7 linked regions of the Homo sapiens genome follow. The protein of the gene in region 1 interacts with the protein of each later gene in a biochemical or structural test. Each region holds a gene or a part of one and is shown in the gene's direction. Other genes may lie near its edges. The genes, in order: EPS15, DLGAP5, WEE1, LMTK3, TMEM114, CLINT1 and PALMD.

Region 1 (4,274 bases):
GGCCAGACGGGGTGGCTCACACCTGTAATCCCAGCACTTTGGAAGGCCGAAGCGGGCGGATCACTTGAGGTCAGGAGTGTGAGACCAGCCTGGCCAACATGGTGAAACCCCGTCTCTACTAAAAATACAAAAATTAGCCAGGCATGGTGGCGCATGCCTGTAATCCCAGCTAGGGAGGCTGAGGTGGGAGGATCACTTAAGCCCCAGAGGCAGAGGTTGCGGGAGCTGATATAGTGCCACTGTCCTCAAGCTGAGTTACAGAGCGAGACTCCGCCTCAAAAAAAAAAAAAAAAACAAAAAAAAACAAATCTGGTTGGAAGGAGTCTTGAACAACAGCTGAGGCATTTTGCTCCAAAATCTCAATATAGTATAATAAAAAACAGCTTATAATAAGAACATCTTCTTTTTTCATTGTGAAAGATGTGGTTAAGCATTACACGTTTCAAAGTTTTGCTTAATTCCCTAGGGAAAAAAACTACCATTTCAAAAGCCTGACAGTGTATTTTATTTCATCCTTTCATGAAGGATTTTCTATGTAACAAGACTTGAAACCAATTAGAATTTTTAATTTAGTATTTGCCAAGGTTGCTGTTTGGGGTAGATAAAAATATTTCCCCAACATAATAATTATGAGTGTTAAGATTTTATTTAGACTGGTCTAAAAGTTCCCAAAGCCTGGAGAAATCTTCATAATGCTTTTTGTTTTATTTTTATTTTTTTTGGCTCACTCCGTCGATCTGGCTGGAGAGCGGTGGTATGATCACAGCTCACTGCAGCCTCAACTTCCCAGGCTCAGGTGATCCTCCCAGGTAGCTGGAACTACAGATGTGCACCACCACACCTGGCTAATTTTTTTTGTAAAAACAGAGTTTTGCCATGTTGCCAAGATGAACTTCTTGAACTTCTGAGCTCAAGCAATTGGCCCACACCCACAGAACTAGGATTACAGATGTCAGCCACCATGCCTGGCTCAAAATGCTTTTTATAAAATATGATTAGGTTCTTGGGAGGCCGAGATGGGCGGATCACCTGAGGTCAGGAGTTCGAGATCAGCCTAACCAACATGAAGAAACCCTATCTCTACTAAAAATACAGGATTAGCCGGGCGTGGTGGTGCATGCTTGTAATTCCAGCTACTCGGGAGGCTGAGGCAAGAGAATCGCTTGAACCCGGGAGGCGGAGGTTGTGGTGAGCCAAGATTGCTCCATAGCACCCAGCCTGGGCAACAAGAGCGAAAACTCTGTCTCAAAAAAAAAAAAAAAAGATTAGGTTTAAATCACATCTTGCTTAGTATACCCAATACTTTAATATGATGTATAGCAAAATCAGCTTTTTTTTTTTTTTCTTGCTTCTTAGCTTTTTTACACATTAAGGGTTAGGAAACTACCAGTGGGATTAAATTAAAAATGATTTGTTGTGTGAGGGTCTCAGTAAAGTTGAAGTGGTAAATATTTTACATTACATTAGGTCAAAAAGGCTAGCCCTGTCCTGTTTTTAAATCTTCTAATCTACTATAAGCATTTCTACTTTTTTTAGTGAGATATATATATATATATATCACATTTAAAAAAAAAAAATATATATATATATATATATATATATATATATATATTTTTTTTTTTTTTTTCAGATGGAATCTCACTTTGTCACCCAGGCTGGAGTGCAGGGGTGCATTTTCGGCTCACTGCAACCTCTGCCTCCTGGGTTCAAGTGATTCATGTGCCTCACCCTCCCAAGTAGCTGGGATTACAGGCACCACCACCATGCCCAGCTAATTTTTGTATTTTTAGTTGAGAGCGAGTTTTGCCATGTTGGCCAAGCTGGTCTCGAACTCCTGACCTCAGGTGATCCACCTGCCTCAGCCTCCAAAGTGCTGGGATTACAGGCATGAGCCACCACATCTAGCCTAGTGGCATTTTTAACATTTAGTTTTATAGACTTTCTATCTATAGATTGAATTAATTTTTTAAATTAAACTATAGCTTAATAACTGGTTAATATTAAACATGTTTTCAGGGGGAAAAAAAAAAGAATTAACAAGTAACCAGACTATTTCCAGAGTCCTTCAGGTGTCCTTTTGTAAAAACTATTTTTCCTTCTTTTTACTTGCTTTACTCATTTATTTATTCGTTTGTTCATCGATCTTTTAAATGGCAGTATCCCTCTGAAGAAGATATGATCGAATGGGCCAAGAGGGAAAGTGAGAGAGAGGAAGAGCAGAGGCTTGCCCGACTAAATCAGCAGGAACAAGAAGACTTAGAACTGGCTATTGCACTCAGCAAATCTGAGATATCAGAAGCATGAAGAATTCTCTTGTTCTTTGGCAACAATATAGTATTCTTCTTCCTGAATACTGAAACTATTTACAATGTGTATCAAAACTACCTGTGAGCATGGGAATACAAAAGGTTTGAGATTCCTGTAAATGTGACAAAATTTTAGGATTTTTTTTTTTTCTTCATTACAGATTCGTCTTTTTTTTTTTTTCTTATAAAAGCCGTAACCCAGTCAGACAAATTCACCTTCACTTAGGCCCCTGTTCTGGTATACATTTACTGTGAGCTTTTGCCTGCCTGTGCTATTTTACTTGTAAAGCTAGAGCACCCAAGCTTCTGCCTTCTGGAATATAGAGAAATAGTTTCACCCTGCACTACCCTGTTCTGTAGTTATTCTGATGATAGCCAGTGAGGTTCTTAAAGTTTGCAGTATTCTCCCCTGATTGGAATGGTTGAGTGAGGGTAAGGGAAAGAATATCTTATTTCTTTTATGATTGGTGCAAATTGGCTAAAGTGCATTTTTAAATTTCCTCTACTTAATTTGTTTTTCAGAGATAAGGAAAAATATTTTGCACAGATTTACTCCACTATGGAAAAGGGATGCTGTAGGTTGAACCATTATAGCCTCAGATTCGATCTTTTCCTAACTAAAAATATTAAAGCCTCATGTGTGAAATAAATTTTTAAAAAGATTTATCTGGATTTAGAGAATTTTAGATCAACAGATACCTCTCAGTGTGTTTGCTAATTAATAAAAATCAGTTTCTTACAAATAAAGTTTGTAAGAAAATGTTCATTTTAAGTGATAGATAGTGGAGAAAATTTATCACCTAAAATATACCCATCAGTATAAGGCAAGCAAAAGTCTTAACATGGCAGCCATTCTGCCTTTGCCGTGGCCCTGTCCTGTTTAGTTCTTAGTGGGTTAATTTTTGTACTTTTGCAGAAGAAACTTCAGCAAGCTAGAACTGGAAGGTACTTTAATTTTTCATATATATTTGTTTTTTTTTTTTTAATGAAGGCTCATTTACTTGAAATGTAAAAACTTTCACTGAATACAAATAGAAAAAGTGATGTGTTTTATATCATATTGCTTTTTGTCCATCTTTGTGGTTTAGTTTATTTACTCACTTCATGTTTTTCACCTATAAAATTGTCAAGCTAGCAAAAAAACTCTTGTTTTTTTAATTGGGAGAGAAGAGACCTGCCAGATTATCAGACCTCTTCATGTTAAAAGACCATCTCCTGTAAAACTGACCTAGTGGACAAGCTGAATTTGAAATAGACTGTGAAGTAAGCTGTAACTTGTCATTTTAATTTTGTTTAACACGGTTACTGACTTAGATGATGTATTAAATACCAAGATAAAGAAAAATGCACCTAAAATCTAATTAGAATTCTCTGGGTCAACAAGTCAAGGTGGTATTGATCTGTGTTAATCTGAGTAACTTATTGCCTAGCCTATAAATAAATTCCAAAATATCCAATTCATTTCTTCTTGAAATGGTGCTTGTTTTGTTTTCTTTCCATTACACAATTAGACTCCTACAGTTTAAAACAAACTTTAAACCACTATCTTGCACTGCTAACTTTTTTCTACCTTTGTAAATAGAAACATTTCTGCATAAAAGTCATACATATGAAGCAAGGGCTGAATCATAATCACAAGGCTTAATTTTGATAAACGAATCCAGTGACCTAAGGATTTTCTGCAAAATTTGACTGGGAGTTGTGATAGGTGGTATTTTTGTTTATTTTCTTCCTCTTACTCCTTAGGATAAAGGTAAGTTGACTTGAACAACTTTCTTTTGCACTGGGAAAATAAGCAAATGTTTAAATGCTTCAAAAAAATTTTCAATTAAACTCAAATATTAAATATCTATAACTTATAAACACCAACTTTCAATGTAATAAATGTATCCTAATCTTATGTATGTTTAACTGGATTACATAGATTTTTATCTTTTGTTAAAATGTGTATACCCCGTGGACCAACAT
Region 2 (3,749 bases), on another chromosome or scaffold:
AAGGGGGGGGAGTTAATGTGTACTGAACAACTGTTATGGGCTAGATATGCTTCTAGATTTTTTTGTTTGTTTTTTGGAGGTGGAGTCTCACTCTGTTGCCTAGGCTGGAGTGCAGTGGTACGATTTCGGCTTACTGCAACCTCTGCCTCCTGGGTTCAAGCGATTCTTCTGCCTCAGCCTCCCGAGTAGCTAGGACTACAGACACGCGCCACCACGCCCAGCTAATTTTTGTATTTTTAGTAGAGACGGGGTTTCACTATGTTGGCCAGGATGGTCTTGATCTCTTGACCTCATGATCTGCCAGCCTTGGCCTCCCAAAGTGCTGGGATTACAGGCGTGAGCCACCATGCCCGGCCTACTTTGTATATCTTGTAGTTTACTATTGTTTGCTAAGAAGATTCATAATTGCATTTGAGTCATAAGTACTCTTTAAAAATGTTTTGGATTCCCCAAAACATCCTCAAAGGGCATCATACAAATAAGCAACTTTGTGTAATAAAGGCAAAGTAAAGCTGGACACTAGAAAAATAGAGCATATCTTTTTTAAAAAGTAACTTGAAAGAAGTGGAGATAAATTTTTTTTTTTTTTTTGAGACGGAGTGTCGCTCTGTTGCTGAGGCTGGAGTGCAGTGGCACTACCTCGGCTCACTGCAACCTCCGCCTCCCAGGTTCAAGTGATTCTCCTGCCTCAGCCTCCCAAGTAGCTGGGACTACAGGCGCATGTCACCACGCCCAGCTAATTTTTTGTATTTTTAGTAGAGACGGGGTTTCACCATGTTAGCCAGGATGGTCTCAATCTCCTGACCTCGTGATCCACCCGCCGCTGCCTCCCAAGTGCTGGGATTACAGGCGTGAGCCAAGGCGCCTGGCCAAAACAGATATTTCTAATAAGATACAAGCTAGTAACTTCAGGATTAGAATACCTTGTATTCTAACTCAATTATTGTCTAGCTGGAGTTAGCTACATTTACTTGTTAACAAGCAGCAGACTTAAGAACATTGTAACTCCTGTTCCGCTTTTTGAACTTTCGGATAAAATTATAGAAATAGTATGATTGAAGTCAAGTTTCTTAGCAGGTACCTGGATTAACAAGTAACGAGTAAATGTAGCTAACTCCAGCTAGACAATAATTGAATTGTTGCTTCTGTCTCCAGAAGTCACCTTCTTTTTGACTTTTCTTTAATATATAGCTCTGGATTTGGCTGAGATTCAGAGTATTGCTGGTAGAGCCACCTGACCCTGACTGACCACCATGGTAACAGACTTGTGAGCTTTCTGGGGAAGAATGCATTTAGTTTGTAAGGCCATCCTGCAGTAGCTATAGTCCAAAACTAATCTATCTGGATCACGCCTGATCTTGCACCAGGCTCCATGTTTGATCCATTCCCTAAACTAATTGCCATCATTAAAGGAAAGACTCAAAATACAAGTGAAACAATAACAATATGTTTATGAGTGTAATGCTGCTTTTTTTCTTCTTTAGGAGCAGCATAGAAGATGCTCAGTGTCCTGGATTACCAGATTTAATTGAAGAAAATCATGTAAGTACAATTCCAGTGTGGTTAGATAGCCCAGTATGTCATATGTTTATATCATTATAGAAAGTAACTTTGTAAAGCATCCCCAGAATTTCCGTTGGAAATCTAAATCAGTCATGTAGAATTGTAGTTCTTGTTTCAATGACATTTGGGTTGTTTAAAACCATAGTGTCATTTTGTATTCTTCAACTCATATCAGAATGAATATGGAACCAGTGAACTAGAGCAGAAATCAGCAAACTTTGGCCCCTATTTTTACAAATCATATTTTATTGTAATAGCCACACATTTGTTTATGTATTCTATCTGGCTGCTTTTGCAATACAGTGGTAGAGTTGAGTACTTATGACAGAGACCCTGTGACTCACAAACCTAAAATATTTACTATTTGATCTTTTACAGAAAATGTTTGCCAGTCCCTGAGCTAGAGTATAGGTACTTGCTGAGAAACTTGCCTTCAATCATACTATTTCTATAATATTATCTGAACTAATTGTTGAAGAAGCAGGATAGTAGGATTTATAATGTTCTTAAGACTGTGTCCGGGATGTCATCCTTCTGTTTTTCTTGTATTTAATAGCAACAAGACTTTTAAAATTTGTTCCAAGTAATTAAATTGATAATTAAATATAATGCCATTTTTACTTCCAGGTTGTAAATAAGACAGACTTGAAGGTGGATTGTTTATCCAGTGAGAGAATGAGTTTGCCTCTTCTTGCTGGTGGAGTAGCAGATGATATTAATACTAACAAAAAAGAAGGAATTTCAGATGTTGTGGAAGGAATGGAACTGAATTCTTCAATTACATCACAGGATGTTTTGATGAGTAGCCCTGAAAAAAATACAGCTTCACAAAATAGCATCTTAGAAGAAGGGGAAACTAAAATTTCTCAGTCAGGTGAGATATTTAAAATATATTTAAACGAGCCTTTATTAAAGAAATGAACTTGGATTAAGGTATAAATTATCCTATAAGGTCCATTTTACATTAGATCTAACTATTGAGGATCCTTCATTGTTAGTGAAGACCCTGAATTAGAACAATTCCCTCAAGATTTTTTTTTTTTTTGAGATGGAGTCTCACTCTGTTGCCCAGGCTGGAGTGTAGTCGTGTGATCTCAGCTCACTGCAACCTCCACCTCCCAGGTTGAGGCGATTCTCCTACACATGTACCACCGCGCCTAGCTAATTTTTTTATTTTTAGTAGAGACAGAGTTTCACCACATTGGCCAGCCTGGGCTTTTTTTTTAGTTGTCCTTTTCAACACATATCCCCAAGTCTTTCTTCAAAATATCCTATTTTTCTTCCCTACTGCCTAGTTCTACCTATATTGTTGTGATGGTTCTGCAATAGGAAATGGCTCCTATATTTTTGTTATAATGTGTGCCAGTTTTACCTGCCATTTTCATCAGTTAGTCTGTAGCTGGTCTAACTGGGGCCTATGGTAAAACAAAAGGTTTTAACCTCGGCCAGACATTTAATGTCCTCCAGCTGTTCTTCATCAGCATTTTCTGGGTACCTTTAATGTTACAAGCATGAGATTTGTTTACAGAAGTCTGCTTTTATACCAAAGTTAAGGATAAGAATTTAACTACTTTCAAAAAACATTATAGCATAGGGGTCTATATTTTTGTCTTAGCATTTGATATGTGGAACTTTTCATATTTTTCATGGCTTTGTCCATTTCTAACAGCCCTCGAATGTGAGAATATTCTTTAAAAAGTTTTTTTTTGTTGTTTTTCAGAACTATTTGATAATAAAAGTCTCACTACTGAATGCCACCTTCTTGATTCAGTAAGTTTTCCAACTTGACAAGTCCCTTTATATTCTAGATTTGTTTTATAAAATGAATATTGCTTTTCTATTTGTGTACAAGGCTTAAAATGTATATCTTGTCATTGTTTTGCTTACTCACTCTTCATTTTTCACAGAATGAAGAAAAATTTGGTGTTTATATACTTTAAAATATAGTATGTTTTAATATTAACCCTGAAGATATGTTTTTCTATATGGTTTTTCTATCAAATTTGCTCTGACAAACTGGGTACTTGAATATCTGAATATATTTCTAAGTGATTCAAGAAAAATATAAGGCAAAGTTTCTGCCCTTCTGGGGAAATAATATCTATCCCACCTTCAGTCATCATTGGTTATTTATGTCCTGCTATTTTAGTGGCTACTTCCCTGCTTTTACTTCTGGTGACCTCTTG
Region 3 (4,182 bases), on another chromosome or scaffold:
AATATGATGAAACCCCGTCTCTACTAAAATTACAAAAATTAGCCAGGTGTAGTGGTGCGCACCTATAGTCCTAGTTACTCGGGAGGCTGAGGCAGAAGAATTGCTTGAACCCGGGAGGCGGAGGTTGCAGTGAGCCGAGATTGCACCATTGCACTCCATCCTAGGCAACAAAGTGAGACTCCGTCTCAAAAAAAGAAAAAAAAAATTCGCCGGGCGTGGTGCCTCACGCCTGTAATCCCAGCACTTTGGGAGGCTGAGGCGGGTGGATTGCCTAAGCTTGGGAGTTCACCACCAGCCTGGACAACACGGTGAAACCTCGTCTCTACTAAAATACAAAAAATTAGCTGGGTGTGGTGGCAGGCACCTGTAGTCCCAGCTACTCTGGAGGCTGAGGCAGGAGAATTGCTTGAACCCGGGAGGAGGAAGTTGAAGTGAGCTGAGATCGCACCACTGCACTCCAGCCTGGGCGACAGAGCGAGACTGTCTCAAAAAAAAAAAAAAAAAACCTTCCAATTTACAAATACCATCACAAAATAAGTTGTCCTATAAAGAAAGTAAAACGTATAGATGACTCCAGTAAATGTAACATAAATTTAATACTAAATATTTGTGCGTGTGTGTGCGTGCACGCGCGCGCACACACACACACACACACACACACACACACACACACACACATATATATATATATATATATATATATATATATATATATATATATACTTTTTTTTTTCTTTTGAGACAGGGTCTTGCTCTGTTGCCCAGGCTGGAGTGCAGTAGTGCGATCTCGGCTCACTGCAACCTCTGCCTCCTGGGTTCAAGCGATTCTCCTGCCTCAGCCTCCCTAGTGGCTGGTATTACAGGCGTGCACCACCATGCCTAGTTAATTTTTGTATTTTTAGTAGAGATGGGGTTTTGTCATGCTGGCCATGCTGGTCTTGAACTTCTGACCTCAAGTGATCCGCCCACCTTGGCCTCCCAAAGTGCTGGGATTACAGGTGTGAGCCACCACTCCCGGCCTTATTTTTTAGAGATAGTCTCACTCTGTTGCCCAGGCTAGAATGCAGTGGTGCAATTATAGCTCACTGCAGCTTTGAATTCCTGGGCTCAAATGAACCTCCTGCCTCAGACTCACAAGTAGCTGGGACTACAGGCATGCACCACCATTCCCAGCTATTTTAATTTTTTTCTTTTTCTTTTTGTAGAGACAGGGTCTCACTATCTTGCCCAGGCTGGTCTCGAATTCCAAGTCTTAGGTAATCCTCCTACCTCAGCCTTTCAAAGCACTGGGATTACAGGCTTGAGCCACCATACCTGGCCAATACTATACTGATAAAACTATTAAAATAGAATCTGCCACTAAAAGCTCATGTTAATTATGATCTTACCTGAATTTGAAGAAAAAAGGTAATGTGTATACAATAGGAAATAGTGAATCACAAAGCCATATTGCAAGGTAGATGCTATATGGTCAGCCAGACTCACTGGCTAAATGACTCATTCTGCTCACACCAGCCTTATAGCGCTACATTAAAACTTGTGCTTTCACAGAATTTCACAAATTACTGATACTACCTTTTTTGCTGAAGGGTAATGTGCTAGAAGACAAGGGCCTCATCCAGTTTAAAGTGTTTAGGATCAGTGCTAGGCTGGAAAATATATTCCCAGAGGCCCAGAGTGGTGGCTCATGCCTGTAATCCCAGCACTTTGGGAGGCTGAAGCTGGAGGATCACTTGAGGCCAGGAGTTTGATCAGCCTGGCCAACATAGTGAAACCCCGTCTCTACTAAAAATATAAAAGTTAGCTAGATGTGGCATGTGCCTGTAGTCCCAGCTACTCAGGAGGTTGAATGAAGCATGAGAATTGCTTGAACCTTGTTGCAGTGAGCCAAGATCATGCCACTGCACTCCAGCTTGGGTGACAGAGCACACTGTCTCAAAAAAAAACAAAAAAAATTCCCAGCAACTATAACCCTGGTTTCTGTCCCCTGAGATGCTTATTCCATGGGTTTGGGCTAGAACTTGAGAATCGGCATTTTAAAAAGCATTATGGATGATTCTGGTATATGATCTTGTTTATGAACTCTGGTTTTATTATTATTAGTTTGGCTTACATAATTAACTGTTTGACAGGTAATATTTTCATATCTCGAACCTCAATCCCAAATGCTGCCTCTGAAGAAGGAGACGAAGATGATTGGGCATCCAACAAAGTTATGTTTAAAATAGGTAAGAAAGGTAATCAGATTATTACCTTCAGATAAAGAGAAGGCTGTTTTGTTTTTGCTCTTCACTGTAAGTTTTTCAATACTTCTAGGTGATCTTGGGCATGTAACAAGGATCTCCAGTCCACAAGTTGAAGAGGGCGATAGTCGTTTTCTTGCAAATGAAGTTTTACAGGAGGTAATTTTTCTTCTCCCTTAATCATAGTTTGCTTTGTAACACTTAGCAGTTGATAGAAGAATATAAATTCAGATATATTAAACTTTGAAGTTAACTAATAGAATGGAAATAAAATCTAAACCGTCATCTGAGGGCATTTAATAAGCAAAAAGTCATGAAGGCAAAGATTTATAATGGAGTTGTCGTAAAAAATATGTTCTCATACACCACTGGTGGAACTTTATAATGGCATATCCTTTTTGGAGATCAGAGTATTAGTATTGCATTAATATTTAAAAATCATGTACCCATTGACTCATAATTTTCACTTCTAGGAGTTTTTCCTATAGAACTATTCATATACAAATACAAGTTGAGAACAGTGTAAATAAGTGTTTACTAATAAGAGAATGATTAAGTAAATTATGGCACATAGTTATTAGTATGGCCTATAGTTTCAAAAGAGTGTGACAGTATTTCTTGATAAAAATTTTGAATGAAAATAGAATAAGTAGAAAAATATAAAGTGTAATTGTCTGATCCCATTGCTCTTTGTAAATATGTGTATATATATGTTTGCTTTATCACGTATATGTGTATTTGTAACTTGTCAGTGTGTTTCTACGTGTTTTGTGTTTGCATATGAATGCCTAGAGGTAGAGGGATTTCTTTTGAGAGTTGAATTGGGCTGTTGATAAAGAAGAGGCATTTACTCTTATCTATGTGTTTGCATTTTTCCCCCAAGAGTGTGTATTACTTTGTAATTTAAAAAATAAACATCCTCAAATTTAGCAGTTTATTCTCTGAATAGGTCCCAAACTTAAATGTGGTATTAGACACTTTGATTAAGTCCTATTTTTCACCTAAGTCATCTTTGAGGTGTAATCTTGTTTTATTTTGACCATGTTTACATTCCTTTAAAAAATTGTTTTAATTTTACAGAATTATACCCATCTACCAAAAGCAGATATTTTTGCGCTTGCCCTCACAGTGGTATGTGCTGCTGGTGCTGAACCTCTTCCGAGAAATGGAGATCAATGGCATGAAATCAGACAGGGTAGATTACCTCGGATACCACAAGTGCTTTCCCAAGAATTTACAGAGTTGCTAAAAGTGAGCATTTTATATATGAAGCCCTTTATTGACATGGTTCTATATTTTATTAAATGCATGTCTTTACCTTCATTTTACTTTTCTTTTTAAGGTTATGATTCATCCAGATCCAGAGAGAAGACCTTCAGCAATGGCACTGGTAAAGCATTCAGTATTGCTGTCCGCTTCTAGAAAGAGTGCAGAACAATTACGAATAGAATTGAATGCCGAAAAGTTCAAAAATTCACTTTTACAAAAGTAAGTGAGGGTTTTATGTTTTCTTTTTGCTTTTTCATTCACTTTAATTCTCAAATTTTAATGAGAGATGATTTAAGCTTTCTGTCAACAAAGGATGTAGTGGTTTTTTGTGTTTTTTGTTTTTTGAGACAGGGTCTCACTGTCATCAGGCTGGAGTGCACTGGTGCTATCATGACTCATTGCAACCTCCACCTCCTGGGCTCAAGCTATCCTCCCGTGTCAGCCTCCTGAGTAGCTGAGCCACAGATGCATGCCACAACACCCAGCTAATTTTTATATTTTTTGTAGAGATGGGGTTTTTGCCATGTTGCCCAGGCTGGTCTTGAACTCCTGGGCTCAAACCATCCACCTGTCTTGGCCTCCCAAAGTGCTGGGATTATAGGAGTGAGCCACCTCACCCGGCTCCAGTAGTTCGATATGTTGTTATACGGTGAAAGCTTGGGGACTTCTG
Region 4 (4,878 bases), on another chromosome or scaffold:
TGCAGCTCGGGGCGCTGGAGGGTGGGATGTGACCCCGAGACGGCGGCGGCCTGGCACGTGATGTATGTGTGTCCTTGTCTGATGTGTCGGTGTCCCCGATGGACCGGGTTCCAGTCCCAGCTTTGCCACTCCCCGGCTTGTGTGCCTTGGGGCAGGTGACTACCCCGCGCTGTGCCTCAGTTGCCTCATCTGTACAATGGGCATGATTAAAAAATACCTGTCTCAGAGGGCGGTTGTGAGGATTGAGAGGTAATTCTGTACGTGTAAAACGCTGCGGACGATACCTGGCACAGACTAAATACTCATAAGAATAAATACATTAAATAAACTATGATCATGTATCTTTTGTATGAGGCAAGTGCTGTGGTTGTGTAATGTCTGCGTAACCGCACGGGAAACGTGGGTATTTGCGACCCGTGTGTCTGTGCGCGTGTCTGTGTCTGTGTTGTGGGTGTGTGACTCTTTGTATGTGTTATGTGTGCCAGTGTGTGTTTATGTATGTGATGTGTGACTGTGGTGGGGTTCTGTGTCTTTGTAACCTTGTGTGAAAGGTGTGTGTATTTGTGATGTGTGTGTCCATGTCTGTTTAGGTATGTGATGTGTGCAACTCTGTGTGTCTGTGTATTTGATCTGTGTGCCTATGTCTGTGCTTATGTATGTGTGACTGTGTATATGTGCATGTTATATGTGTCTGTATGTATCAGTGTGTGGTGTATTTATGTGTATTTTTGCATGTGATTTATGTAGCCCTGTATGTATGAGTTGTGTGTGCCCGCATGCATGTGTATGTAGTGTGTCTGTGTGTATCCATGTGAGTGAAGCTTGTGTCCGTGTGAGTGATGCATGTTACGTGTCCGTATACATGCATGTATTATGTTTCTGTGTACTCATGTATGTGATGTGCCTGTCTCTGTGTAGCTGCTGTGTCCGTGTCTATGTTAGTTCATGTGATGTGTGTGTCTGCGTGTGTCTGTGCAATTGCTGTCTGTGCATGTCTGTGTGACGTGCATGTATGTGATACTTGTGTCTGTGGGTATTCTTTGTTGCCCATTTGTCTAGGGACTGTCTGCGTGGCTGTGACTATGAGTGTCAGCATGTCACAGTGGTGTCCGTGGGGATCTTTGTCTGTGGCGTGTGCGTCTGTGGATCTGGGGCTTTACTTTGTCCGGGGCATGTGTGGGTCTTTGTGATGCTTTGACGTTCCTGCGTGGCCGGGTGCATCTGTGCTGGAAGCTGGCCTGCCTGTGCGTTTCCAGTGCGGTCCCTGCGTCTTTGTGTGTGACGTGTACGTGTCCCCGTCTGCTGATGGCTGTCCACCTTTGTATGTGATGCGCTTGTCTATGAGGGTCCCTGCGACGTGTGTCAGCTGTGTGTGGGCTGCGCGTGCCTGACATCTGCATCTTAGCGTGTAGCACATGTGTCCATGCTGGTGGCATGTCACAGCGGTGTCCGGGCCAGGCACCCGTGGGCCCTGCCCCCCCACCCCCGCTGCAAGTGTGTGCCGGTCCCTGTCTGTCCCTCCCCCTCCCATTTCCTCCCCTCCCTCCTGGCAGCCAATGCTACGGGGGAGCCAGTTGCCATGACGACGCTCCATCCTCCCTCCTCCCACCCTTCCTGTGACAGGCTCTCTGCTCCCCCAATCCTGGCTGCCCTCGGGGGCGGGGCCCTCTTTCTCGCCCCCCCCATCCTACCCTCTCCCCCCCACCCCAGCAACCCCGGCTCCCCAGCATCTCTCCTCTGTCCGCCTCTCCATCCCTTCATCCGTCTGTCCCTTCAAAGAGGGGGAGGGGGGTACCTGAGCCAGCAAGCAGCCCCTCCCTCCCCCTGTCCTGCGTCTCCTGCCCCTCTCCTGGGCCGGGAGGAGGCCAGGGTCGCGCGGGTCCCCATGGCTGGGGGCTGAGGGCCCGCCCCCCCCTCCTCCCCAGCCGCCACCACCTCCACCTCCCTGCCATCCTCGACAAGATGCCTGCCCCCGGCGCCCTCATCCTCCTTGCGGCCGTCTCCGCCTCCGGCTGCCTGGCGTCCCCGGCCCACCCCGGTGAGTCTGTCGGGCCATCAGTCTGTCCGGTGGCCCCCACCCCCGCGGCGGCCTCGCTGTCTGCCCAGGGGTCTGTCTGCGGGTCCTGCCCCGTCACCTGGTGCGCGTCTTCCCGCAGCCCAGCAGGGCCCGGAGCGGCGGGGACGGTGCCTCTGTCAGCAGGGCCTGTGGGAGGGAGGCTGGGGGCTGGGTGGGGAGGGGGCTCCGTTTGGGCAACATGTGTGTATGCGTGCACGCATGTGTTTGTGCTGGTGTGTGCAGGAAGAAGGGGAAGGACAGGGCCTCTGGGAGAATTGGGGGCAGAGGACAGGAATACTATTTCTAAGGGGGACACAACACGGGAGGCTGTCTCTGGCTTCTGGAGAGACCCAGGGCTTGCGGAGTTCCCTTCTCTGGGTCTTGGGCTGGGGATAGAGAACATCGGTGTGCGCCAAGCGTCCCTAAAAGAGACAGATCTCAACCCCACAAACTGGGGGGTTCCAGCATGGGGCAAGAATCTTCTCCCAGCCTGCAGCTGAGAGCTAGTCCTCCTCCCCAACGAGGGGTAATGAGGCTGTCCACGGGAGCGTATTTTAAATTCTGCAAGCTCCAGACTTCACTATCACTCCTCTTTCCTTCAACCCTCATTGGAATTCATCCAAGCCTGGGGTGAGGGGATGGGGTGGGATGAGGTGGCGGGGGTCCCAGTTTGGGACGAGAAGAGAGACCCCACCCCCAATCCAACCACTTGGGAAGGCCCCAAACTACAACTCCCACAATGCCTTGGGCCACTCTGCACCTCTGCCAAGGGACCCTGGTCGCAGAGCATCACGGGAGTTGTAGTCCAAGACGTGCCGGGACGGGAGGGGGCATGATTCCGGTATCCAGGGACTTGAAGCTGGGACCCCAGCCCAGCCCTGTGCCCACAGATGGATTCGCCCTGGGCCGGGCTCCTCTGGCTCCTCCCTACGCTGTGGTCCTCATTTCCTGCTCCGGCCTGCTGGCCTTCATCTTCCTCCTCCTCACCTGTCTGTGCTGCAAACGGGGCGATGTCGGCTTCAAGGTGAGGTGCATGAGGGGATTCAACTTGGGGAGGAAGACTCCAGCAAGGCCTTTACCCCCTACACAGGTGGTTGGTGGGGAGAAGGGGGCAGTAAATCCGAGAGCACCTTCCAGCTTGAAGCTATGGCAAGATCTGGAGCCTTGGGATGGGGAAATGGGGGATGGAAATTGGGCTGGGACTGGGAGACAGTTACAAAAATGAAGGGGAGACAAACTTAAGAGAAAGACGATGGCGTGTCTCTCAGCCCTGCGTTCTCCCACCCCTCTTCTCCTCTCCTGGCCCCAGGAATTTGAGAACCCTGAAGGGGAGGACTGCTCCGGGGAGTACACTCCCCCTGCGGAGGAGACCTCCTCCTCACAGTCGCTGCCTGATGTCTACATTCTCCCGCTGGCTGAGGTCTCCCTGCCAATGCCTGCCCCGCAGCCTTCACACTCAGGTACTGCCCCACGCCATGACCAGCATCCCATGGTGTCCCGGGAAAGGCCAGAAGATGTTGAGTGTGTTCCTTCAGGGGCTGGGGCGGTTGAGACCAGCGGCAGCCAATGGGAAAGGCATAGGTGGGAGCGCTGGAATCTTGGAAGCAGCCTATGGGGAGGCAGACAAAGATCATCTTGGTGGAAGCCATTGCTTAATCCAAAACCAGATTTGGGGATTTTTAAGGGGCAAGCGGTGGTGAGATTACCATAGAGCACAGTCTCAGAGGCAGCCAATGGGAGGCTGAAATCACATCATAGGAGCTTGGGATGCCAAAAGGAAGGACTGATTGGATGCTGGAGCCTTGTGAGCAGCCAATGAGGAAGCTGAGATTCTGACATGGAATGTGGGTGGCAGCCAATGAAAAGAGAGTGATGTCTGCTCTGTCTCAGTCCCCACTGACCTGGGGTGTGTTGGTAGCACTCAGGAAGGGGGAGAGACTCAGGGGCTTTCCCCTCTTGCCCTCCCCAGACATGACCACCCCCCTGGGCCTTAGCCGGCAGCACCTGAGCTACCTGCAGGAGATTGGGAGTGGCTGGTTTGGGAAGGTGAGTGGGCTGGGGAGGGGAGGCAGGGCTCCATGGATCCCGAGCTGTCCTCCTGTTCTGTGTCCACACCCCTGCTCTCACCACTTCTCATCTGTCCCTCGCCTCCTCCCCATGCCCCCTCAGCCTCCCATCCCCCCTCCGTCCACCTCTCACCGGCTCCCACCCGCCCCATCCCCGACATCTGTCAGTCAGCGCCTCCCTCCTCACTCCATTGACCACTCCGCCGCGCCACCCGGCTCTCCACGCGTCCGTCCGTCTGTCCATCCTTCCATCCGTCCCTGCGTCCATCGGATTCTGGGCCCGTGAGTGTCTCACCCCATGTCTGGTGGGGGTCAAGGGTGGTGGGATGTGGAGGGAGAAGCTGGGAAGGAGCCGGGGGTTGGGAGCTGTGTGGTGGAGTGGAGCTGGTCCCAGGGGACGGGGCTGGGGAAACGGCACTCGCTGACTCCTGGGTGCCCCTTGACCAGGTGATCCTGGGAGAGATTTTCTCCGACTACACCCCCGCCCAGGTGGTGGTGAAGGAGCTCCGAGCCAGCGCGGGGCCCCTGGAGCAACGCAAGTTCATCTCGGAAGCACAGCCGTACAGGTACTGAGGGTTTCTCAGTGGGTGTGTGCCTTGTTGAGGTGACATTCAGGAGTGGAAGGAGTGCTGTATGGGGTCACACCTGGAATCTACCTCTTCCGGTTGTGCAGCTCTGGCAGGAGAACTTCCCTCCCTGAACCTCAGGTTCTTCCTCTGGACCGAGCTAAGGGTGGGAAGTGAGAGGCAGGATGGT
Region 5 (4,728 bases), on another chromosome or scaffold:
ATGGTCCCTTACGAATGGATCACAGGAGTGCCAAGATTTTGATTCCTCAGCCATAAGGTCAGCATTGAGGGGTCTTTAGTAGCTGTAACTCCTGAGGATTGGTCATCCCCAGTATCTGGAAGCCTCTTCTGTTAATGAGCCATGCAAATATAGGTATTTTCTCTGTGTCCCCTACTTTGTAAAAGTCTGGGAAGCCTGAATCCTATATTTCTTAAGGGCAGGACTTGTTTTTGGATTGTTCATGCCTATATTCTTAACATAGACTATAGCATCAGACACATAGAAGGTACCGGAAGTATTTCTTGAAGGAGTAAAAGGTTTTATGGTGGTGAAGAAGATGGTGGAATTGATAAGAGTGATGGTGATGATAAAGAGGAGAGTGGTGCTGGTGCTGGTGGTGGTAGTGATGATGATGGTGATGGTCATGGTGGTGGTGATGGTAATGACCGTGGTGGTGATAGTGGTAATGGTGGTGATGATGGTGGTGATGATGATGGTGGTGATAGTGGTAATGGTGGTGATGATGGTGGTGATGATGATGGTGATGGTGGTGATGATGGTGGTGGTAATGGTTGGTGGTGATGGTGGTGGTTGGTGGTGATGGTGGTGGTGATGATGATGGTGATGACGATGGCAATGGTGGTGATAGTGATGATGGTGGTGGTGGTGATGGTGGTGATGGTGGTGATGGTGGTGGTGGTGGTGATGGTGGTGATGGTGGTGTTGTCTGTGGTGATGGTGATGGTGGTGGTGATGGTGGTGGTGATGGTGATGGTGGTGATGGTGGTGTTGTCCATGGTGATGGTGATGGTGGTGGTGGTGGTGATGGTGGTGGTGATGATGATGGTGATGACGATGGCAATGGTGGTGATAGCGATGATGGTGGTGGTGGTGATGGTGGTGATGGTGGTGGTGGTGGTGGTGATGGTGGTGAAGATGATGTGGTGATGGTAGTGATGATGGCGGTGTTGGTGGTGATGATGGTGATGGTGGTGATGGTGGTGTTGTCCGTGGTGATGGTGATGGTGGTGGTGGTGATGATGATGATGGTGATGGTGGTGGTGTTGGTGATGCTGCTGCTGGTGATGATGGTGGTGATGATGATGATGGTGATGGTAGTGATGACGGTGTTGTTGTTGGTGATGATGATGATGGTGATGGTGGTGCTGTTGGTGATGCTGCTGCTGGTGATGGTGGTGATGATGATGGTGATGGTAGTGATGATTGTGTTGTTGTTGGTGGTGATGTTGATGATGGTGATGGTGGTGGTGGTGATGATGGTGGCAATGCTGGTGGCTATGATAATGAAGAAAGACTTTGGGGGTAGAAATGATAGATTCTGAGGACCTGGACTACCTCAGTGCTTTAGAGAACTTTTATGAAAAATTAATGTGCCTTTTCACATTCTAGTCAGCCCAGACTACACTCGAAGGTGGATTTTGGAGGAAGGGTACTTGGAGCTGGAGGGGCTCTTGGAGATGATTTGCAAATCCTGGCGGGACTGTGAGGCCCGCCACACCCCTCCTTCTTTCTGCCCCAGGTGGTCCCAAGGCCGCCTGCCCTTCCACACCGGCAGCCTCCAGCGCTCCAGGGCTGGGGACCGCCCCCGTCCATGCTGCGTGCGCACTCCGAGCTTTTCCTCGGCGAGGAGGAGGGCTCAGAGGGTCAGCTGCGCCCCGGCCAGAGCAGGAGCTGCGGGAAGACCCTGGAGAGCAGGGCTGGGAGTGGGGATCTGGCAGTGTGGGGCCAAGAAAAAGGGCTGGGGCGGAAATCCAGAGACAGAGGCAGAGAGGGGAGCATCTGGGATCGTGGGGAGGGTTCGTGGAGAGTGAGGCAGGGGAATGGAGGGAGTAGGAGTCTGGGGAAAGTGAGGATTTTGAAGTGAGAGAGTCCGCTTGGGCTGGGCGTGGAGGGCCGAGGGTGGAGTGGGGCTGAGGGACGAGGTGGGTTAAGGTGCTGGTGGGGAAGGACTAGAGCTTCCAGGAGGGTCTGAAGGCGGAGGTGGAGGTCGGACAGCACAAGTGAGAGTGAGGGGGTCTGCAGGTAGAGCTGGCATTGGAGGGGTGGGAACGTGGACGGCGGCTGAGCGGGGGGCGCGTGCAGGTCGGAGCCGGCAGGTGAGGAGCCAGGGTCTAAGCTAGGGCCCGGGGTCCAAAGGAAAGGCTTTCAGATCTGAGCTCCGCGGCTCTGGCGGCGGTGGAGCTGGGAGCCCGCGGTGGCCGGCTGGGGACGGGGGCAGGAGCAGAGGGGTCGCGCCGCGGCCACTGGAACCCGCGGCTGCTGGTCCTGGGCTCGGCGATGCGGGTGCACCTGGGCGGGCTGGCCGGCGCGGCTGCGCTGACCGGGGCGCTCAGCTTTGTGCTCCTGGCGGCCGCCATCGGCACGGACTTCTGGTATATCATTGACACCGAGCGGCTGGAGAGGACTGGCCCGGGGGCGCAGGACCTGCTGGGGTCCATCAATCGCAGCCAGCCCGAGCCTCTGAGCTCCCACTCCGGCCTCTGGCGGACCTGCCGGGGTAAGGGTGCACCCCGTGGCTGGGAGCTGTGGCTGCGAACGCCCCCTGCGCGGTGCCCTGCTCCCTTGGGACCTGTTGCTTGGCGCGCACTCCTCCCCCAAGTCCCTAAAATACAATGTCTAGGGACTCGGGGGGAAGGTGAGCAGAAGGCCGGGACTGCGAAAACCCTTCCGAGAGGCACCCGGCTGCGATCCCAACTGCTCTAGCTCTCCCCGCGCCCTCCCCGGGTGGGGCACTTAGGGTGAGCATGGGGGCAAAGCCGCAGACGAGGGTGCTGCACAGAACTCCGGGGTCCTGCACCCATGGATTCCTCCGTCCTATCCAGTGCAGAGCCCGTGCACACCGCTGATGAACCCCTTCAGGCTGGAGAACGTGACAGTCAGCGAATCGAGCCGGCAACTTCTCAGTGAGTCCGGGGAGGGTGAGGATGGAGGGAGCGCCCCGGTCCTAGCCGTGAGTTCTGGAGCCTTTCCCAAAACAGCCGGGCTTCGGGGCCTGCGGAGAGGGCGGCTGGGGTGGCCTCTGACAGCCCAGCCTGAGAATGGAGTGGGCTTAAGACCGGGGGGCAGGGTCTCTCCTGATCCACCTGTAACGTTTTGTGGTTTAGGGTTCATTCAGCTCACGTTGACTAATGGCTTTCTTTGCACCGTTTTGATGGATGGTTAAGACACAGGCCATCCCCTCAAGGGGCTCACAGTGGTGCTGGGACAAATGTGGAGACGCGCAGTTAGAGTCCAGCAGCGTGAGGAAGGGAAGGTGGGAAGCCCCTGCAGGGACCTAAATTAGCCTCGGGAGGTGAATGGTGAAAGAGAGGTCTCATTCCACAGATTCCATGCCAGCGTTGTTTGTATTCACATTGCCTAGAACAAGGGCTTTGCAGTAGTGGGGTGCGATAGAAATTTGCATATAAATATATGATTGGAGCCAGGCAATTAGGAGGTGGGAACAGCCCCTCCTCTCAGGTCCACTGCGTCCCTCTTATTCCTGGTTGGTTCTTAGTACCCAGCTCAGTGCCTGGAACTCAGTAAAAGTTGTGAGGACTGAAAGCAAGAAAGGAAATGGGATGAATGAGCATTTGTGGAGGGAGGGAAATAAACCTAACAGTTCAATTCATTGAGGCTTGAGATAAGCCAGACGTGGAGCGAACTGCTTTTCATCTATGTCTTCATTTGATTCCCACAGCCACACCCTATGAAGTTATTAGTATCGTCATTTCTGCCTTCATTTTTCCAATGAGGAGGCCCAGAGAGGTTCTGTAGGAGGATCTGATGAGGAAATGAAGACTGAGTTTCATAGACTTTGAAAATGTGGGCAGGTTTTTTTTTTTTTTTTGAGACAGGGTCTTGCTCTGTTGCCCAGGCTGGAGTACAGTGGCATAATCTTGGCTCACTGCAACCTCCTCCTCCCAGGTTCAAGCGATTCTCCTGTCTCAGCCTCCTGAGTAGCTGAAACTACAGGTGCCTGCCTCCACGTCGGGCTAATTTTTCATATTTCTAGTACAAATGGAGTTTCACAATGTTAGCCAGGCTGGTCTCGAACTCCTGACCTCAAGTGATCTGCCCATCTCAGCCTTCCAAAGTGCTGGGATTACAGGTGTGAGCCACTGCATTGGTATCAGTTTTTTTTTAATAGTGATAGGAAACATAGTTACTATGTTTCCCAGGCTGGTCTTGAACTCCTGGGTCAAGTGATGTTCCTGCCTTGGCCTCCCAAAGTCTTGGGATTTCAGGTGTGAGCCACTGTGCCTGGCCTTCTCCCTCCACTCAACCCTACCCAGAGACAGGGTCTTGTTCTGTTGCCCAGGCTGGAATGCAGTGGCACGGTCTTAGCTCACTGCAGCCTCAAACTCCTAAGCTCAAGCAATCTTCCTGCCTTAGTCTCTCAAAAGTGCTGAGATTATAGGCATGAGCAGTTTTTGATAGACTTACTGAGGCTGGGGATAAAAAAATAAAGACAAGTGCCTAGCATGGCCCACAAGGCTTGGTAGGGTCCCTCTCCAGCCCCATTCTCCGCTTTACTCCTTTCTTTCCAGCTGTGCTGGCCTTGGCCAGTTCTTGGAACATGCTAAGTTTCCTCCTGCCACAAATATTTTGCACATGCTGTTCCCTCCACCTGGAATCTCCCTGCTTTTATCCCACCAACTTGACTTGGCTAACTGCTAAGTGCAAATTGTATGACTTTTTTGTGGGGTGGGGTTTAAATCTGACTCC
Region 6 (3,898 bases), on another chromosome or scaffold:
TAACTATCTGGTTCATATTCTGGCATTACGTTTTTAATTAGCTGTATGTATGATTTGAGGCAGAATCACATGAATCTCCAGACTTTGCCTTCCTTATCTGTAAAATGAGGGGACCTGGCTAGAGTAAGACTTTTTCCACCTTTGATGGCTATTGGAGAAATGCATTTCCATCAAGGAAAAATAGTTGGAACTAGTTTTTACAATAGCAGACAAATTTTGGAGCCATTATCCTCTGTAGACAATTTAGGCTGAAAAGGGAAATTTTCTTAAAAAGTGGTAATCAATAAATGTTATACTTAAATATTTTATGCAATAAATAAGACCATGACTCAGGAAGACTAGGACTTTTAGTGTATATTGATACCCAGTGAGGTTTTACTTCAGAAAAAGAAATGTACTCTGAAAAATGTGTTTCCTGGAGCCACTCTTAGATTCAGTATGGTAGCGGCTCTTAAGTGTAATGATGTATTTCTTTTTTTTTTTTGAGATGGGGTTTCGCTCTTGTTCCCGGGGCTGAAGTGCAGTGGCGAGATCTCAGCTCACTGCAGCTTACACTTCTGGGGTTCAAGCGAGTCTCCTGCCTCAGCCTCCCTAGTAGCTGGAATTACAGGTGCCTGCCACCACACCCAGCTAATCTGTGTATTTTTAGTAGACACGGGGTTTCGCCATGTTGGCCAGGCTGGTCTTGAACTCCTGACCTCAGGTGATCCACCCATCTCAGCTACTCAAAGTGATAATGATGTATTTCAAACACTGGCTTTTGAGACCTTGAAGACTTTTTCTGGAAGTGGGGGTATATTTTCCACAATCGCTGCACCTCCTGGTGGCAGTAGAGGGATTTGTTTTGCAGAACATTGTGGAACTGAGGGAAGCAGATAAAGCCATAGGCCTGCCAGAGCTTGGAATGCCAGTATCTTCCCACTCGTCAAGTTGCATAAAAGGCGATGTGGCAGGAAAGGATAAGTGGCACCATTCCCACCAACTAGGAGCACTAGCTTAATCATTGTCATCCTATGACCTATCTTTACTTGTGGCTGTAATAAAATTGGACATGTTTATATTTTGTCATCCTATACATGGTAAAATTGAAAGTTGCTGCAGTTCTATTTTCTCTCTAGATTTGAGGAATGTAATGAAGGTGACATGGTAGTGGTAGATCAAAACTGCTACTTATTTGTTCAAGCTCAGCGAATCCTTCTCTTTCCTTGCAAGGAGTAATATTAGTGGTAAATCTCTTTCATCAGTGACCCGCCCCCCCCCCCGCCTTTTTTTTTTTTCGGAGACAGTTCACTTTATCCCCCAGGCTGAAGTGCAATGGCGTGATTTCAGCCCACTGCAATCTCTACCTCCCGGGTTCAAATGATTCTCCTGCCTCAGCCTCCCGAGTAGCTGGGATTACAGGCGTCTACCTCCATGCCTGGCTAATTTTTGTATTTTTCATACAGCTGAGGTTTTGCTGTGTTGGCCAGGCTGGTCTCAAACTTGTGACCTCAGGTGATCCACCCACCTCGGCCTCCCAAAGTGCTGGGATTACAGGCATGAGCCACCTTGCCCAGCCTCAGTGGCCCTTTTTTTGATAGTGATTCAAACAGCTCTGGCTAAGGTCCTAAGGCAACAGCTATGGGTAGTCCATTTTAAGTTATTCTCCTAAGCATAGCTTGCATTTTCCCTCATAAGTTGATTTTTATTGATGTATATTTGCTTGGTTTTAGTTCCTAAATGTTTAGATAATGTAATAGAGCTGTAGAAACTGCTGTTCTAGTCTCCTGACTCCAGAGGGAGAAACTTTTGCTTTTATAAAGAATAGTATATTCATTTATTTTAACAGGCAATACATTTGTTATTTATTGGATTAGTAGTCTGGTTTCTTTTTATTTTTTATTTTTGAGACAGGGTCACACTCAGTTGTCCAGGCTGGAGCACAGTGATGCAAACATGCACACTGCAGCTGGGACCACAGCTGCGCCTCCATGCGTGGCTAATTTTAAAAAATTTTTTTGTGGAGAAGGGTTCTTGCTATGTTGCCCAGGCTAGTCTTGAACTCCTGGGCTCAGGCAGTCTGCCTGCCTCAGCATCCTGAAGCGCAGGGATTACAGGCGGGAGCCATTGCGCCTGGTCTAGTACTCTATTTTCTGAACTCGAAACATACAATACCTGCCTTCAAGAACCTTGCCACTACAAATATGCTACAACTTGAATGGATTATTTTTCTTTTCTTTTCTTTCAGTCTTCAGATATCATCCCCTTTATTTTCTTTATCTTACCAGTAAATCTCTGTTCAGTTTGCTTCTTGGAATTTGAAAGCAGAGATAGTAAGATAGTTGTCAGCTTTCTAGTCTTCCCATGTCAACTTTTCTTTGAACCGATTATAAGTAATTGTTATTGCTGAAACAATGAATTAATTATTCTCCTCCTTTTCTAGTAACTGGACACAAGTAGATATTAGGAATTTAATTCCAAAGAAAGATGAGTTTGGTTTATCTCTGCTAGCATTTCTTAGGGGTAATTTTCTGTAGTTTAATCTATTTAGTACTACTGTCAGGGTGCTTTTAAAAAGCACTTAACTGCCTCTTATGTTTTCTTGCACACTTTAGTATTAGTTTACAAGCAGTTTTTCTTTTTTTTTTTTTTTTTTTTTTTTTGAGATGGTGTCTCGCTCTCGTTGCCCAGGCTGGAGTGCAATGGTGCGATATTGGCTCACTGCAACCTCTGCCTCCTGGGTTCAAGCAATTCTCTTGCTTCAGCCTCCTGAGTAGCTGGGATTACAGGCACGTGCCACCATGCCCGGCTAATTTTTGTAATTTTAGTAGAGACGAGATTTCGTCATGTTGGCCAGGCTGGTCTTGAACTCTTGACCTCAGGTGATCCACCTGCCTCAGACTCCCAAAGTGCTGGGATTACAGGCGTGAGCCTCCGTGCCCGGCCTACAAAGCAGTTTTTCATCTGTTTACTGATATGTCCATTGAAAGTACTTAGCCTTTTTTATTTTGAGTGCCATTTGCTAGTAATCCAAGGTTTCACAATATGGCTCTACAGTTGAGTCTTTTTCTGGACTTTTTTTTTTTTCTTTCTTTCTTGAGATGGAGTCTTGCTCTGTCTCCCAGGCTGGAGTGCCATGGTGTGATCTCAACTCACTGCGACTGGCCTCTGCCTCCCAGGTTCCAGCGAGTCTCCTGCCTTAGCCACCCAAGTAGCTGGGATTACAGGCATGTGCCACCATGCCCAGCTAATTTTTGTAGAGACGGGGTTTCATCACTTTGGCCAGGCTGGTCTCGAACTCCTGACTTCATGTGATCTGCCTGCCTTAGCCTCCCAAAGGGCTGGGATTACAGGCATGAGCCATTGCCTCTGGCCTTTTGTATGCTTATATTATTTTCCTACTTGTTTCCAATGTTTGTTTTAATGAAGATCACTTCACAGATTCAAAGTACATTTTTAGTACTTTTGAAGGTTCTTATATACAGTTAACTTTTTAGTCTCAGCTACCTTTGGTGACAACATATTTTACTGTTTACTCTTCTGTGTTTTTCAGGTTAACGCTTCATGTGAGCTTTCCTTGTTTAGCTTAATTATGTGTGTTTGTCCATCTATGTATTTTTATAATAATTTGCTAGCCAAATATACTTTGCCACTATACTTAGGTGCCTCCAGATGGTGTTTAATAAATGTGGGAATAGCTAGTGGTTCAGAGGTGAGAACTGGATTGAAATCTTAGGTCTGCTACTAGAAACGGTGATCTTATGTGTTAGAATGGTATCTTTATTTCTCTGTAAAATAGAGATGATATTTTATAGGATTATGAGGATTAAATGTGAAACAGTATAGTACTTGACATACAGTAAACTCTTGAAACATCTATTACTGTTATTACTGTTACACACAAAACAGTATAACACTA
Region 7 (4,274 bases), about 48 Mb from region 1:
GTTTCCCGCTCTCACTTCCTTCATGTCTCTGCTCAAATGACACTTTATCAGAGAAACTTCCCTCACCACACTGTGTGAAATAGTGCCCCCTCCTCAGGCTTTCTCTATATTCTTTATCTTGCTGTTTACAGCCCCTATCCTGCTTTTCTCATCAAAAATATTTTTTCTTCATAAATAAATGTGTTTATGTGTATATATATGTATGTACATACATCTGCAATATATACATATTTGTATTACACATTTATTAATGCAGGGATTGACAAACTATGGCCCAGGACCAAATCTAGCCCTGGCCTGATTTTGTACAGACACAAGCTAAAAATGGTTTTTATATTATTAAAAGGCTGTAAAAGAAAAAGGGGAAAAAAGATGAATAAGAAACAGAAAGCATATGTGGACTGCAAAACCTAAAATATTTGGCATCCGGCCCCTTATAGAAAAAGGTTGCCAGCCCCTGTATTGTCTCCCACTAGAACATAAACTCCTTGAGCTCAGGGACTTTGTTTTGGTCACTGTAAGATCCCCAGCACATAGAAGAGTGCCTGGTTCAAAGTAGATGCTAAGTAAATATTTTTAAAAGAATGAATGAATAAAGACAATGAGTTTTATTGTTTGTTTGTTTGTTTGTTAGCCCAGATCTCACTCTGTTGCCCAGGCTGGAGTGCAATGGTATGATCATGGCTCACTGCAAGCTCGACCACTCGGGCTCAAACAATCCTCCCACCTCAGCCTCCCATGTAGCTGAGACCACAGGTGTATGCTCAGCTAATTTTTTTTAATATTTGTAGAGACTGAGGTCTCACTATGTTGTCCAGGCTCATCTCTAACTCCTAGGCTCAAGCAATCTTCCTGCCTCAGCTTCCCAAAGTGCTGGATTATAGGCATGAGCCACTTCTCTCAGCCCAACACTGAGTCTTAGTGAGGTCAGGTGACTTGTCTAAGGTCACACAGGAAGCTGGCAGATGAACCAGGTTTCAAACCCAGGTCCACCTGATTCCACAGCTAGGCCCTGATGTGCAAGAGCTGCTTGAAGCAATGATTTGAACCTTCTTGTTTTCTACCAAAAGGCTTTCCTTTGTAGACTGTCTCTAACAGGCAAATTAGGTAAGCACCCTGTGGGACAGGGGATGAAAAAAGAAAGACATACAGTATGTTGCAGAAAACTTTTAAAAATTATATCATAACATATTTACATCTGATATCAACCATATTCAATGTACTTTCATATACATCATCTCTTAGTGTCACCACATATCTGTCTGTATATGGTAATGAGCGTAATCTGTAATTATGCTCATTACACACATTACAAAACAGAGTTTCAGAGAGGTTAGGGGAACTGGCTTTCACAAGAAATGAGTAGCAGAGACAGAATTGAATCCAGATTTATCACTTTTAGTGCAGAGCTTTCCCCTTTACCAAATTGGACCAACATATATCCCCACAGCTCTGCTGAAGGGTAAAAGTGCTGCCATGGATGTGGAGGAATTTTAATAAAATGGCAGTCACAGTTCAGTCACTTCTAAGAAACCAGGGGCTACTCCATTTCACTTAGAGGTCTGTGGCATACAAGAAAACCTCCTCAGTTATAAACGGCAATCTACCAATGGCCAGAGGCAGCAGCAAAGTAAGAACTTTGAAACTGAAGCAATGAGCAAGAGAGCTGTCAAGCTGACCACATCTTGGGCTTTTACTGGTGTGACAATAGTGCAGCATTTTTGAGCTGCCAGGCCCATGACCATCTTCAAGAAGGAAGCCAAGAAAACTGACAGTTCTCTTAGCTGACACGAATATCCACAGCTGTCACCTCCTGGACCAGCTGCTGAATCTAATCAGCCATCCTCTGAGGCAGCTGACTTTAGAGCCTTAGTGTATTTGGCTGAGAAACCATGTGTGTTACGTGGCTGCCAAGGGCCAGCCTTCTGCGTGATTGCCAGTGTCTCTATGTTTTTATAGAGGAGAGGTCACGATGCTGCCCCCTGGAGTTCATTTGAATCTGACACGCAGCTGTACACTGGCCAAGATACCAGCTCAGAATGCTTGCAACAGTCTAGTTTCAAATGTCTGTCTCTTTGTTGCTGTAAGTTCCTTATGCTGTGTCAGGCCATGTGTGCCCTACCCCCCGCCCAGAAAATGTAGCCTCTATAAACAGCAGCAGTTGAAGCTACTGTACTATATTTGGTCCATTTCTGCATCTCTTCACCCTCCTCACTATAATATGGCCCAACTCTTAGGAAACTGAAATTAAATCAAAGTGTCATTTTCAATGGTAGAATATGCAAGAATTTTAAGTACTAAATGACTATGATTATTAAATCAGTTTAATAATTATAATGTTTTCTTCAAATAATTTATATGATGACTTGGATATGAAAACCTGATGAACTACATAATAACTACAAATGTACCATTCCTTTCGGTACAACTTTAAACTTATGTCTCTGTATTTTAAAAATCTCTTTTATTTGGAAATAACATTAGTAATTGCAATGAAGAACATGGAGCAAAGGTCAAATGCTTTACCTAATATATTCCTTTGTCAAAAAAAGAAAACTTGAAAATCGTTCAAAGTCGGGCATTAGGTATCTTCCATATATTAAGTATCATGCTTAGTGTGATGCTAAGTGTGACATTATATTCTTAGAAAGTGTCTGGCTACTTACATGCATATTCCAAGGAAACTTTATATATGGGGAAGACATATTTGAGAACTCCGCATTTGTACTGTGTTAAGCAATAAAAAGTATACCTTTTTGTTGTCAGGCTTGAGAAAGAGATCCAAGATCTTGAAAAAGCTGAACTGCAAATCTCAACGAAGGAAGAGGCCATTTTAAAGAAACTAAAGTCAATTGAGCGGACAACAGAAGACATTATAAGAGTGAGCATTAACCAATTTTAAAACTGTAATTCTCTCTCAAAATGAATCCACAAATACTATATAATTTTTCAAAGCATATCCACATTTAGATTCTATTTTTTAAACTGTATTAATCATGGAGAATTCTTTTTTCTTACAGTCTGTGAAAGTGGAAAGAGAAGAAAGAGCAGAAGGTATGTTTTTGAATAACTTATTTTATGTTAAACTAAGTTTTTTTGGTAATTTGAAATTGTTCCCATTGTAAATATATTCTAAATGTATTTTGAATTCATATTAATTTTACAGAGTCAATTGAGGACATCTATGCTAATATCCCTGACCTTCCAAAGTCCTACATACCTTCTAGGTTAAGGAAGGAGATAAATGAAGAAAAAGAAGATGATGAACAAAATAGGAAAGGTATATGAGAAATCTGTGTTGAAGGGCATGTTCTTAATTTCAGATTTTACAGTGTCAAATATTCACAACTTGCTATGACATATTATTCTTCCAGGTTAAGCAATGGTTCACTTTACAAAGTTCTGTGAGTTATGTGAGTCACCGCATAGGTGAGGATAATGAGGGTATAATAATAGCATTTATTCCATGCATTTTATTCCCTAACAAACCAGACAGGGATAAGGAAGATAGAGACCCAAAGGAGACAAGAAGCTCTTAAAAGCATAGATTCCCTGGTCAAAAATATTTCTCCTGACATATTCCATCCAATAGAACCTCTTTGGGGGTTACAAAGATCTTTTTTGAAAATGAAAATATTCCTTTGGGAAGCTTAGGCCTTATTTACCTCCATGGGAAATTGAGTTACATAAAACTGATGCTTCAAAGCTTCTAGAAAAATGAAGGTTTGCATTAGAGCAGAGAGGAAAACTTTGAATTTTACAGTGGAAGGAAAAGCTACTCTTTATTTGCAGATGGTAGTCATTTATTCATTCAACAAATATTTAGAGAATAGATACTGTGTGCCAGGTTCAGTTAGGCACATAGTAGGTATTCACTAAATATATCATGGTAGGGAGTGCAATACAGAGAATAAAGCAGAGAAGCTGGACAGGGAGAGTGCAGATGAGGGGTGTTGCAGTTTTTCTTGGGTAGTCAAGGAAGGCCAAGAACCACCAGGCTATAGAGGAGGTAAGAAATACAAAATGGGTTCAGAAAGAAAGGTGGGAGGACACAACAAAAGCAAGCTGTAATTTTGCACAGAATTCTATTCGCTTTACCTTTCCTATTGAAATTCCAGCCATAGGGATCTTACTTAGGTCATGAAGCAAATCTCAGCTTCCCCAGTTCTCTCCAGTCCATTTGTCTCAGTGCAGCTGATATTGCTGTACTTTTTAGCCCTTCCTCTACTTGAAAATGGGAGTGAAAATGAAAAGAAACATAAGGCAGAAAGAGA

The links.
Region 2: the proteins of EPS15 (region 1) and DLGAP5 interact in a test that uses a peptide from one of them, tested with the Homo sapiens proteins (one large-scale study listed by BioGRID and IntAct).
Region 3: the proteins of EPS15 (region 1) and WEE1 interact in a test that uses a peptide from one of them, tested with the Homo sapiens proteins (one large-scale study listed by BioGRID and IntAct).
Region 4: the proteins of EPS15 (region 1) and LMTK3 interact in a test that uses a peptide from one of them, tested with the Homo sapiens proteins (one large-scale study listed by BioGRID and IntAct).
Region 5: the proteins of EPS15 (region 1) and TMEM114 interact in a test that uses a peptide from one of them, tested with the Homo sapiens proteins (one large-scale study listed by BioGRID and IntAct).
Region 6: the proteins of EPS15 (region 1) and CLINT1 form a complex in vitro, tested with the Homo sapiens proteins (one study listed by BioGRID).
Region 7: the proteins of EPS15 (region 1) and PALMD interact in a test that uses a peptide from one of them, tested with the Homo sapiens proteins (one large-scale study listed by BioGRID).

Annotation. Positions count from the first base shown.
Region 1 is NC_000001.11:51,354,730-51,359,003, reverse strand, and holds part of EPS15 (epidermal growth factor receptor substrate 15), read left to right. Parts: intron 1-2,157; coding exon 2,158-2,304; 3' UTR 2,305-4,274. UniProt on the Homo sapiens protein: Involved in cell growth regulation. May be involved in the regulation of mitogenic signals and control of cell proliferation. Involved in the internalization of ligand-inducible receptors of the receptor tyrosine kinase (RTK) type, in particular EGFR.
Region 2 is NC_000014.9:55,150,383-55,154,131, reverse strand, and holds part of DLGAP5 (disks large-associated protein 5), read left to right. Parts: intron 1-1,484; coding exon 1,485-1,542; intron 1,543-2,190; coding exon 2,191-2,437; intron 2,438-3,283; coding exon 3,284-3,333; intron 3,334-3,749. UniProt on the Homo sapiens protein: Potential cell cycle regulator that may play a role in carcinogenesis of cancer cells. Mitotic phosphoprotein regulated by the ubiquitin-proteasome pathway.
Region 3 is NC_000011.10:9,583,126-9,587,307, forward strand, and holds part of WEE1 (wee1-like protein kinase), read left to right. Parts: intron 1-2,132; coding exon 2,133-2,228; intron 2,229-2,316; coding exon 2,317-2,402; intron 2,403-3,323; coding exon 3,324-3,494; intron 3,495-3,585; coding exon 3,586-3,731; intron 3,732-4,182. UniProt on the Homo sapiens protein: Acts as a negative regulator of entry into mitosis (G2 to M transition) by protecting the nucleus from cytoplasmically activated cyclin B1-complexed CDK1 before the onset of mitosis by mediating phosphorylation of CDK1 on 'Tyr-15'.
Region 4 is NC_000019.10:48,508,661-48,513,538, reverse strand, and holds the start of LMTK3 (serine/threonine-protein kinase LMTK3 precursor), read left to right. Parts: upstream 1-1,703; 5' UTR 1,704-1,925; coding exon of another isoform or gene 1,926-1,962; coding exon 1,963-2,038; intron 2,039-2,946; coding exon 2,947-3,080; intron 3,081-3,365; coding exon 3,366-3,516; intron 3,517-4,025; coding exon 4,026-4,102; intron 4,103-4,569; coding exon 4,570-4,688; intron 4,689-4,878.
Region 5 is NC_000016.10:8,587,409-8,592,136, reverse strand, and holds the start of TMEM114 (transmembrane protein 114), read left to right. Parts: upstream 1-1,625; 5' UTR 1,626-2,298; coding exon 2,299-2,518; intron 2,519-2,843; coding exon 2,844-2,924; intron 2,925-4,728.
Region 6 is NC_000005.10:157,852,522-157,856,419, reverse strand, and holds part of CLINT1 (clathrin interactor 1), read left to right. Parts: intron 1-3,898. UniProt on the Homo sapiens protein: Binds to membranes enriched in phosphatidylinositol 4,5-bisphosphate (PtdIns(4,5)P2). May have a role in transport via clathrin-coated vesicles from the trans-Golgi network to endosomes. Stimulates clathrin assembly.
Region 7 is NC_000001.11:99,683,910-99,688,183, forward strand, and holds part of PALMD (palmdelphin), read left to right. Parts: intron 1-2,766; coding exon 2,767-2,881; intron 2,882-3,020; coding exon 3,021-3,054; intron 3,055-3,166; coding exon 3,167-3,280; intron 3,281-4,274.